2 separate regions of the Homo sapiens genome follow, and region 2 is reported to be linked to region 1. The links are microRNA targets in miRTarBase. Many come from high-throughput screens and were not tested one by one. Region 1 holds a microRNA gene; the other region holds the end of a gene's coding sequence.

Region 1 (4,151 bases):
TATAACTTTGAATGGAGAAATCGCTTCACTTTCAAATACTGGGGATATGAAATTGAAATCAGGCCTTTATTTTTAAAGAGAATGGCTAAAAGTCATTGTTCCAGAGTAAGACTTAGAAAACAATGCTTATACTGTTTTCAGGCCCTTGTTATTTGCGAGTTTTTTGTTTGTTTTATGCCTAAGAAATGTTTTCAGCCACTCTAATGATGCTTACCATGCATGATTGTCATCAGAGGACAGTTAATTGACTCAAATATTGTGTGGGATAGTAAGTGTCAATTTTCTGTTTACATTGAAATGGTATAGTTATGGCGAATTTGAAATTAGTTTTGTCTTTCAGTGTAGTATACTTAAAAATAGTTTTGAAAAGGCTGCCCTAATTTGCACACATAATATGAATAAGTAAGTTAACTTATATAGAAATTAAGATTTTCAGTATATTTTGTGCTAAATTGCAAAGATTAATATGGCTTTTTAAAGGAAGTTTTGAATAGCCTTGTATGTATTTTCTAGGATGCAACTAAGAGAGTGCATCTAGATATCAATACCTGCCTTTATTTCATGTTTGTTTTTTGCTATTAACATTATATAAATGTACCTATACATCAGCTGTATCATATACCTCCTGATGAAGAAGTTCAGAATAGACCTTAGAAACTTCCATATTTTGGGGGACTACTTTCTCTCTGTCTCTCTGTCTCTGTCGTTCTCTCTCTCTTTGTCTGTCTCTCTCTCTGTCTCCATTTCTTTCTCCCTTTCTGTGTGTGCATACTTATGATACATATATATTCTTTGATGTTTCTCTATTTGTGCTATAGTTTTTCTGTAGGGAAAAATAGCTTCAGTTAATTGATATTTTTGAGCCCAATTTTAACAACTAATTAAAAATGTTTCCCAGATAAGTATTGCTAGAAATCCTAGAAATCCTTTTTTTTTTCTTTTTTCCAAATTCTAAAAGTGTTTTTAGACTTCTATTTATACCTCCGAAAGAAGAGAAAAATAGTTGGCAAGATCTTCTACCTACATTCTTTGTTGTAGGCTCTAATGATGGCATACTCATGGAAGCCCTTTCTACTCTTCTTAAGTAGAACACAAGCACATGTACAGTTAACTACTGTAAGAAGGTAAATTCACTACTTAGAAGTTAGATACTACTGATAAGTTTATCAGGTATTGTGAAGTGAGAATTTTATACAAATGTAGTGTTTTCCTGGTATGGTACAGCTTTTTCTTAATATTAGGTGTTACAGTTGATCCATTTCTTGAAACTTCATCCACCAGTCCTCCAGGAACATCAAGGATCTTAAACTTTGCCAGAGCTACAAAGGCAAAGTTTAAGATCCTTGAAGTTCCTGGGGGAACCATGGATGGCTATCCTTATTTCTATAAGAGAGGAGACTGAATACTGTGGGCTCAGTCTTCAGTCTACCCTCTTATAGAAATAAAGACAATCATTTCAGAGCATACATAATCTACTGACTGAATCATTAATGATTTGCCTGTTTATAGCTGTATAATATTTCATGAGGTGATAACTATTGTTCTCATTTGGTTTGTATTTAAATTAGATAATATCAATTTTAAATATAATTTTAGCCAAAAAAAATCAAACAGAACATTTGTAGTATGGTAGCAAACGTGCAAATTTGGGATAAAAAATTGAAATAAGAGAATAAATGTGATTTTAGCTTCTCAATTTTTTTCATAGCCATTTATAACCATCAAGAGATACCATGTTTTAAGTAAAATTTTAATAGCAAATAGGTTCATTTACCCAGATTTCAACCTAGGTGAATTAAAACATAGGGTTATAAGTACTAATGAGAGTTTTAAGAAACAGTATTTTGTAAAGTATCTTTGAAGGTCAAACTACATGTTATGCTCTGTAATTTATTTTATTTTTGTCTGCTTTGAGGAACTGTGTAGTAATAAAGGACTTTGGTTGATGATCAAACTCTCCTTTTACTTCCTTGATGATGTGTGTTATTATAGTCATAAAGATGTCCAATAACATAAACACTGAACTTTACTAGTAGTGCAAATAAATACAGAGAAAGTTTGGCTGATTAGAAAGAACAATTGCATAACTGAATTAATTTCAAAGCAATTTATCTCTATGCTGAATATGTTAATTAAATATAATTAGAGGGTGTTTATGGATTGTAGTATCTCAGAATATAGTTTGAGAGAATTTTTAAGGAGTCACATTTGAGTAAACAAATTTTATTTGAAATTACGTAAATGCAATATGAAATGGCAAAAGTCTATTGGTATTTTAGATTTATAAAATAGCATTGTTTTAGAGTAACAATGGCTATTGCTTTAAATTTTTATGAATTATTTTTTCTGTTTTAATGCATCACCATGACTGGATATGTAGGAGAAAAACCTTTAAGCTTCTTAGCAGTAAATCAGTAAGAGGTCTCATATTGCTAATGTCTTTAGTCATTTTAAAGGAAGAACTACTAAATTTGTAAAATCTGAGTTATCATAGGTTTAGCTGATTACATTAAGCAGACTAGGAAATTCATGATCAATTTGGAAAAATAAAATTTTCTAGAGTAGTACAGATGAGGTTTTAGAGAACAACATTTTAGACTTGATGTTGTTGGAAGTAAATGCTCGGTGCTGCCAAGTGAATATAGCACTCAGGCAAAAGTTTGCTCAGCAAGGCAATTTACTTCTATAAAAGGGTGCCTCTCACGGATGGAGCAATGGCAAGAGCACACCAGACAAGGGAGGAGAAGGGGATCTTACTATTAATGCAGCTAGTCCCTACTGCTTGTTTTTCCCCTATTGGGTAGGGTTGGACCGCACAGTCTAAGATAATTCCAACTGGCTATTTTAAAGACAGCAGGGGTATGAGCTGGAGTGGCGGGGTGAGAAGCTTTGGTGGGAAGGACGGTTACAGAGCAGGTGACCAAGGATGACTAAGGACAGAGCAGGTGACTAAGGAGGGAGCAGGTGACTAAGGATGACTAAGGACAGAGCAGGTGACTAAGGAGGGAGCAGGTGACTAAGGATGACTAAGGACAGAGCAGGTGATAGAGGCTAGGAGGGGGTTGTTTACTAAAGCTAGGGACAAGGAGATGTAAAGAACGAGGAAGTTAAACTTTCAAATGGAAAACAAAGAACAGGGAAGCTCAATATACTAACATATTGGTTCTTTGAAGAGGAATTTACTGTATCCTACAATGTAATGAATCTTTCTTTGGGACTTTCTTATTCAATGAGATTTTGTCTTTATTCAGTGATTTTCCATTCACTTAATATACATTTGAAGTCTTTCCCCCCTTCTCATTCTGGGAAATATAACTGTGTTTAAACTGTGCATCTGCAAATAAAGAGATTCTGATATGATACAGTTGAATTTAATAAATACTTATCAAATAACACTTGTTCTTTTTGTAGTTGTGTGATTAGTAGGTGACAGAGACCTCCTCTTATTAACTTAAATAGAAGTTGGTATTTCTATATAATTCTGAGGTACAGTGCAGAGGATGTTGAGGAAGGAGGAGTGGGGAAAGCGGGTATTCACCAGTGTGAAGGGAAGCAGTGTATGGAAAGAATGTGTGCAGGTGATTCTTAGACCAAGTCACAGAGGATGAGGATGAGTTGGGCAGGCATTGAAAAGGGACAGTGTCAGTCAGAGCAGGTGGGATAGGCAAGAAGGCATGAAGCCATGAATGTGGTTTAGGAGAACAACTTGTGGATTTTACAGTTATAGAGATGTTCCTCCTTTATGTTTCCATGTTCATGAACTAACCATTAGTAATTACATAAAGGAGTTTTAGCTGGATTAATAGTTTTAGCTGAATAATTTTAGCTGGATTATCTTGCAAAACAACCATCTTGTTTTTCTTTCTTTTTTTCCATTTCTCCAGACCTGATCAGCATGTAATTGGAATCACAAGGAGTAGGTTGTGCTCTCGATTTCATATTTATATTTAATTTCAGAACATGCAAATTAAAAAAATTTTTAATCACAGCATTAACTATATTGGGAGGAGTTATGATTTGGCTCTGCATCTTGTCTTATATTTGTTTATTTTTCATATATAAAGAACAGATGTGTTAAATAGTTATCTACTTGGTAGTAAGTAACTGTGCCAGTATTAACAATTTTTATGAATAATATTGAAAAAATAATT
Region 2 (4,000 bases), not on the chromosome of region 1:
TGAGGCTGCAGTGAGCTATGATTGTGCCACTGCGCTCCAGCCTGGGCAACAGAGCAAGACCCTGTCTCAAAAAAAGAAAAAAAAAAAGGGAAAAGGGAAGAGGCACAAAGGACTGAGAGCGTTGCACATTCTCCATCCCACGGAACATCATGAGGAACAGCAGCTCCTCCAATACTGCTGCAGGAATGCTGACTGTGGCACTCTGGTTCCTCGGGAACCAGGAAAGGACAGAATAAGCAGGAGTAGGGAGAGACATTTCCTCCTTTGAAACTGTAAGAAAAAAAAAAACCACCTTCTGAAAAGAAAAGGCAGACCGCAGCATTTTATTTCAACCTAGCGAGCATCGACGATCTGGCTGTGAGGAAAGGATGCATTTTCAAATTAGCTTTCACTATGGTTTTCTCTTCCCTTCTCAAGGGAGAAGATATTAAGAAGAAAATAAAGTGAACTCTTAGATGTTCATCAAAGTTAAATCCTGGCTGGGCACGGTGGCTCACATCTGTAATCCCAGCAATTTGGGAGACCAAGGCAGGTGGATCACTTGAGGAGTTACAGACCAGACTGGTCAACATGGCGAAGCCCCATCTCTACTAAAAATACAAAAATTAGCTGGGCGTGGTGGCGTGTGCCCGTAGTAGTCCCAGCTACTTGGGAGGCTGAGGCAGGAGAATCGCTTGAACCCGGGAGGTGGAGGTTGCAGTGAGCCAAGATTGCACCAGTGCACTCCAGCCTGGGCAAGAGTGAGACTCCATCTCAAAAAAAAAAAAAAAAAAAAAGTTAAATCCTGTGCAGACTGGCAGAACTAGAATAAGGGAATATATCCTTATTTCATGTTGTCCAGTGCTGAGCATTGATTTGTAATTTCATTTTACGCAGGCCCAGTGGCTCATGCCTGTTATCCCAGTACTTGGGGAGGCCAAGGTGGGAGGATCGCTTCAGCCCAGGAGTTTGAGACCAGCCTGGGTAACAGTGAGACTTCGTCTCTACAGAAAATAAAAAGACTAAAAATAATTAGCCAGGCATGGTGGCGCACGGTCCATCTACTTGGGAGGCTAGTCCCAGCTCCTTGGGAGCTGAGGCGGGAGGATCGCTTTTGACTTCAGGAGGTCAAGGGTGCAGTGAGCCATGATCGTGCCACTGTACTCCAGTGTGGGTGACAGAGCGAGACTTTTGTCTCAAAAAAATTTTTTTAAATGGTTTCATTTCAGTACAGCTCGGGGGCCATAGAAAGGTCAGGGGAACAGTCACCGATCTAAGGTTCAACTGGGTAAGAAAACATTGGCTGGCGTGGGGACACAAAGATGAGACCACACCCACAGTGCAGCCGGAAAGGAAACTCTGAGCCAAACGCCAGCCAAGAGGTTCAATGAGAAAACAGACGGCCCTTAACTTACAACCGGGCAATTCATCCAAACCGAGCACAGTCTTCCACAGTGGGAAAGGGCAAGTTTTCACAGAACAGATGGAAATGAAGCCACCCCAGCACCTCAGGTGAGGGAGCACGTGACCCAGCAATGCTGTGGGTCAGCGTGGGCTCACCCGGGAGCGCTCAGTATCAGGAAACATGAGGGCACCGATCACATTCTAAATCTCAGTGCTCATGGTATATAGATTTAAGTAACGAAATGGAGATTCATTATAAAAGTCAGTTTATTTTCCCTTTCTGTGTTTCGTATTTTCCCTTTTTGTCAGTAAATGAGCAATACACTGATTGGAAATCTGCATGATTAAATAACATTAACAAGTTCATAAACACACCCCATATCAGAGTATAAAGCAAGAGGTTGAAAAATATCCCCTAACCGAATGCAAATTAGGTATCCCTCAAAATTGCACATTCTCCTCCTAGTTTGCTTGCATAATTTAAAATATGTATATACAGAATGATCTTAAAATATTGATAACTAGTATGGAATTCACAGCCCTGAAGATATATATACTCTACATTTTTCTAAAGAACGGACACCCCTCAGGCCCTAGTAATCCATTCATGTGATTCAATGTCATGTACAGACAGTCCTCAGCTTCTGATTTTTGGACTTTACAATGGTGTGAAATGGTTGCAATTTCAACATAATGTACAATATTCAATAAATTACATGATATATTCAACACTCGATTATAAAATAGAGTTTGTGTTAGATGATTCTGCCCAACTGTGGGCAATTCTAAGTGTTCTGAGTACATTTAGGGTGGACGAGGCTAAGCTGTGGTGTCCAGTCAGGGGTATTAAATGCATTTGACTTCCAATGGGTTTACTGGGACATAACCCCATCATAAGTCAAAGAGCATCTGTACTTGACACTTACTAGAAGAAAAGGTCTTTCCCTTTTCTCTAATTCTAGTCTTCTGCTGAGGTAACTCCAGGAAGCTGCTTGTGCCAGAGATCAATCCTCTAAAAATAGACTAAGCAGATTAGCTTCCTAGAGGATCCTAAGTTCCCAGACAACAAATCTGGGATGGAGTGCTTCGGCTGTGAGTTACACGTCGGAATGTTCAAGATAAATGATGTACCTTATGGTCCTTTACACGTCAGAATGTTCAAGATAACTGATGTACCTTATGGTCCTTGAAAGGAAGACTCAATACTTCCAGGAGTCAAAGTTAATTTGAATGAAAATGGAAGAGAACAAGTTGACAATAATTTGAAGCAATTCATGCTTCTAGGGCTGAATGACGTTTAGATCAGACACAGAGTGACTGAGCCAATCAACAGGCATGTAGTGTGATCTTTCCCACCACAGTGAACAGAGGGATTCTTTGTCCAAGGCAGGCTTGCAGCTCGGTCCAGCTTGAGCATTTGATCAGGATTTGATGCTTCAAAGATGACCCACTCTCTGTAAACTCATTACCAAAGCAAAATGCAATGATCTCTTCCATTTGTGGAACATACCACCAACACAAACCACGCGTGGCTTTGCCTCCTGTTCACTCCATTTTCAAGGCTAGAGAAAGTTCAAGTCCAAAACAACAGTTAAGGTTAAAACGCTAAACCTCAATAGGCCAAACAAAGACGCGGGCAGAGTCAGAGGTCAAAGATGCTGGCAGAGTCAGAAGTCACTCGGCACATTCATGAAACAACAGCAAAAATCATCAACAGTAATTCCTGTAGTGTAGAAAACTAGTGCAGCCTTCACTGCTGGTCAGCATCTCAGGTGGCTGGCAGTGTTGAGAGACGCCTGACAATCCAAGATCAGGCTGGAGCTCCTAGACAAACCCAAATTAGGGCAGACTCGAAGCCCCAGCGGTCCTGATGTGGCTGACATTGTTCTTTCTGTCTCGCGGGCACCGGTCACTCCCTCAATATGTGAGCCTGTCTCCTTAGCACGAGAGAGAATATTTCCCTCACTATTAATGGCGAGATAAACACAATTGTACAACTTGTCTGTAAAGAGAAAATAGTATTAAATATGCAGCAACAGTTTACTTCTGTTAGAGTGTCATGTTTTGAACATAATAATGGATTTGGACAATTACATTCATTTTGACTTCATACAAAGATAATGTTTAATCTTCAATGAATTAGAAAATGATTTTGAAAATTATGGCTAATATTACAAAACACTCAACATCACATTTCAGTTCCCAAAAAAAGAACAATACATACAAATAATTTGCCATAGGCGGAGCAGAGAACTGAGACCAGAGGCTCAGATGAACAACAGTGATCCTTATAATAGATAAAAGTTTTCTTTCTACTACAGTTCCTAGTATGATCACATCAGAAAGTTCATCACAAGATACTTCCCTCTACTTAGCATGGATGTCAGAAATGGAACACAAGTTACATGGGCCCAGTCTTTAGAAGCTAGATGGGAATTAGATGAAAGCTCCAAGGTATTCCTGGAGCTGGACTATCCTGGGGCTCCTTGACCACAGCAAGAGGACAGCTGCCTGGAGTACGGGTGGTGGAAGCTGCCTTCAATTACAGTGCCCTGGATTTGGGGACAGGATACTGAATGCGTCCCTGGTGCCTTCCAGACTCTCTCAGGTAGACCTG

The links. The annotated mature microRNA hsa-miR-561-5p reads AUCAAGGAUCUUAAACUUUGCC and lies in region 1 at 1,294-1,315, shown strand. An mRNA with a match to its seed (bases 2 to 7 or 8) in the 3' UTR can be bound and repressed. Matches are read on the target gene's strand: a 7mer-m8 pairs with bases 2 to 8, a 7mer-A1 pairs with bases 2 to 7 and ends in A, and an 8mer does both.
Region 2: miRTarBase lists SLC37A3 as a target of hsa-miR-561-5p. Seed matches in the 3' UTR shown: 7mer-A1 at 2,939-2,945.

Annotation. Positions count from the first base shown.
Region 1 is chr2:188,296,224-188,300,374 of GRCh38, forward strand. It overlaps MIR561 (microRNA 561), which reads left to right and starts at 1,269; the gene lies at 1,269-1,365. All of the region lies in intron 1 of GULP1 (GULP PTB domain containing engulfment adaptor 1), which reads left to right. RefSeq lists enhancers at 2,389-3,588, 2,719-3,013.
Region 2 is chr7:140,332,120-140,336,119 of GRCh38, forward strand. SLC37A3 (solute carrier family 37 member 3) reads right to left here. Exons shown (of 15, transcript NM_207113.3): 15 at 1,633-3,385. The coding sequence ends at 3,293. Among named protein-coding and RNA genes, the nearest start is that of SLC37A3, 64 kb to the right of the region's middle.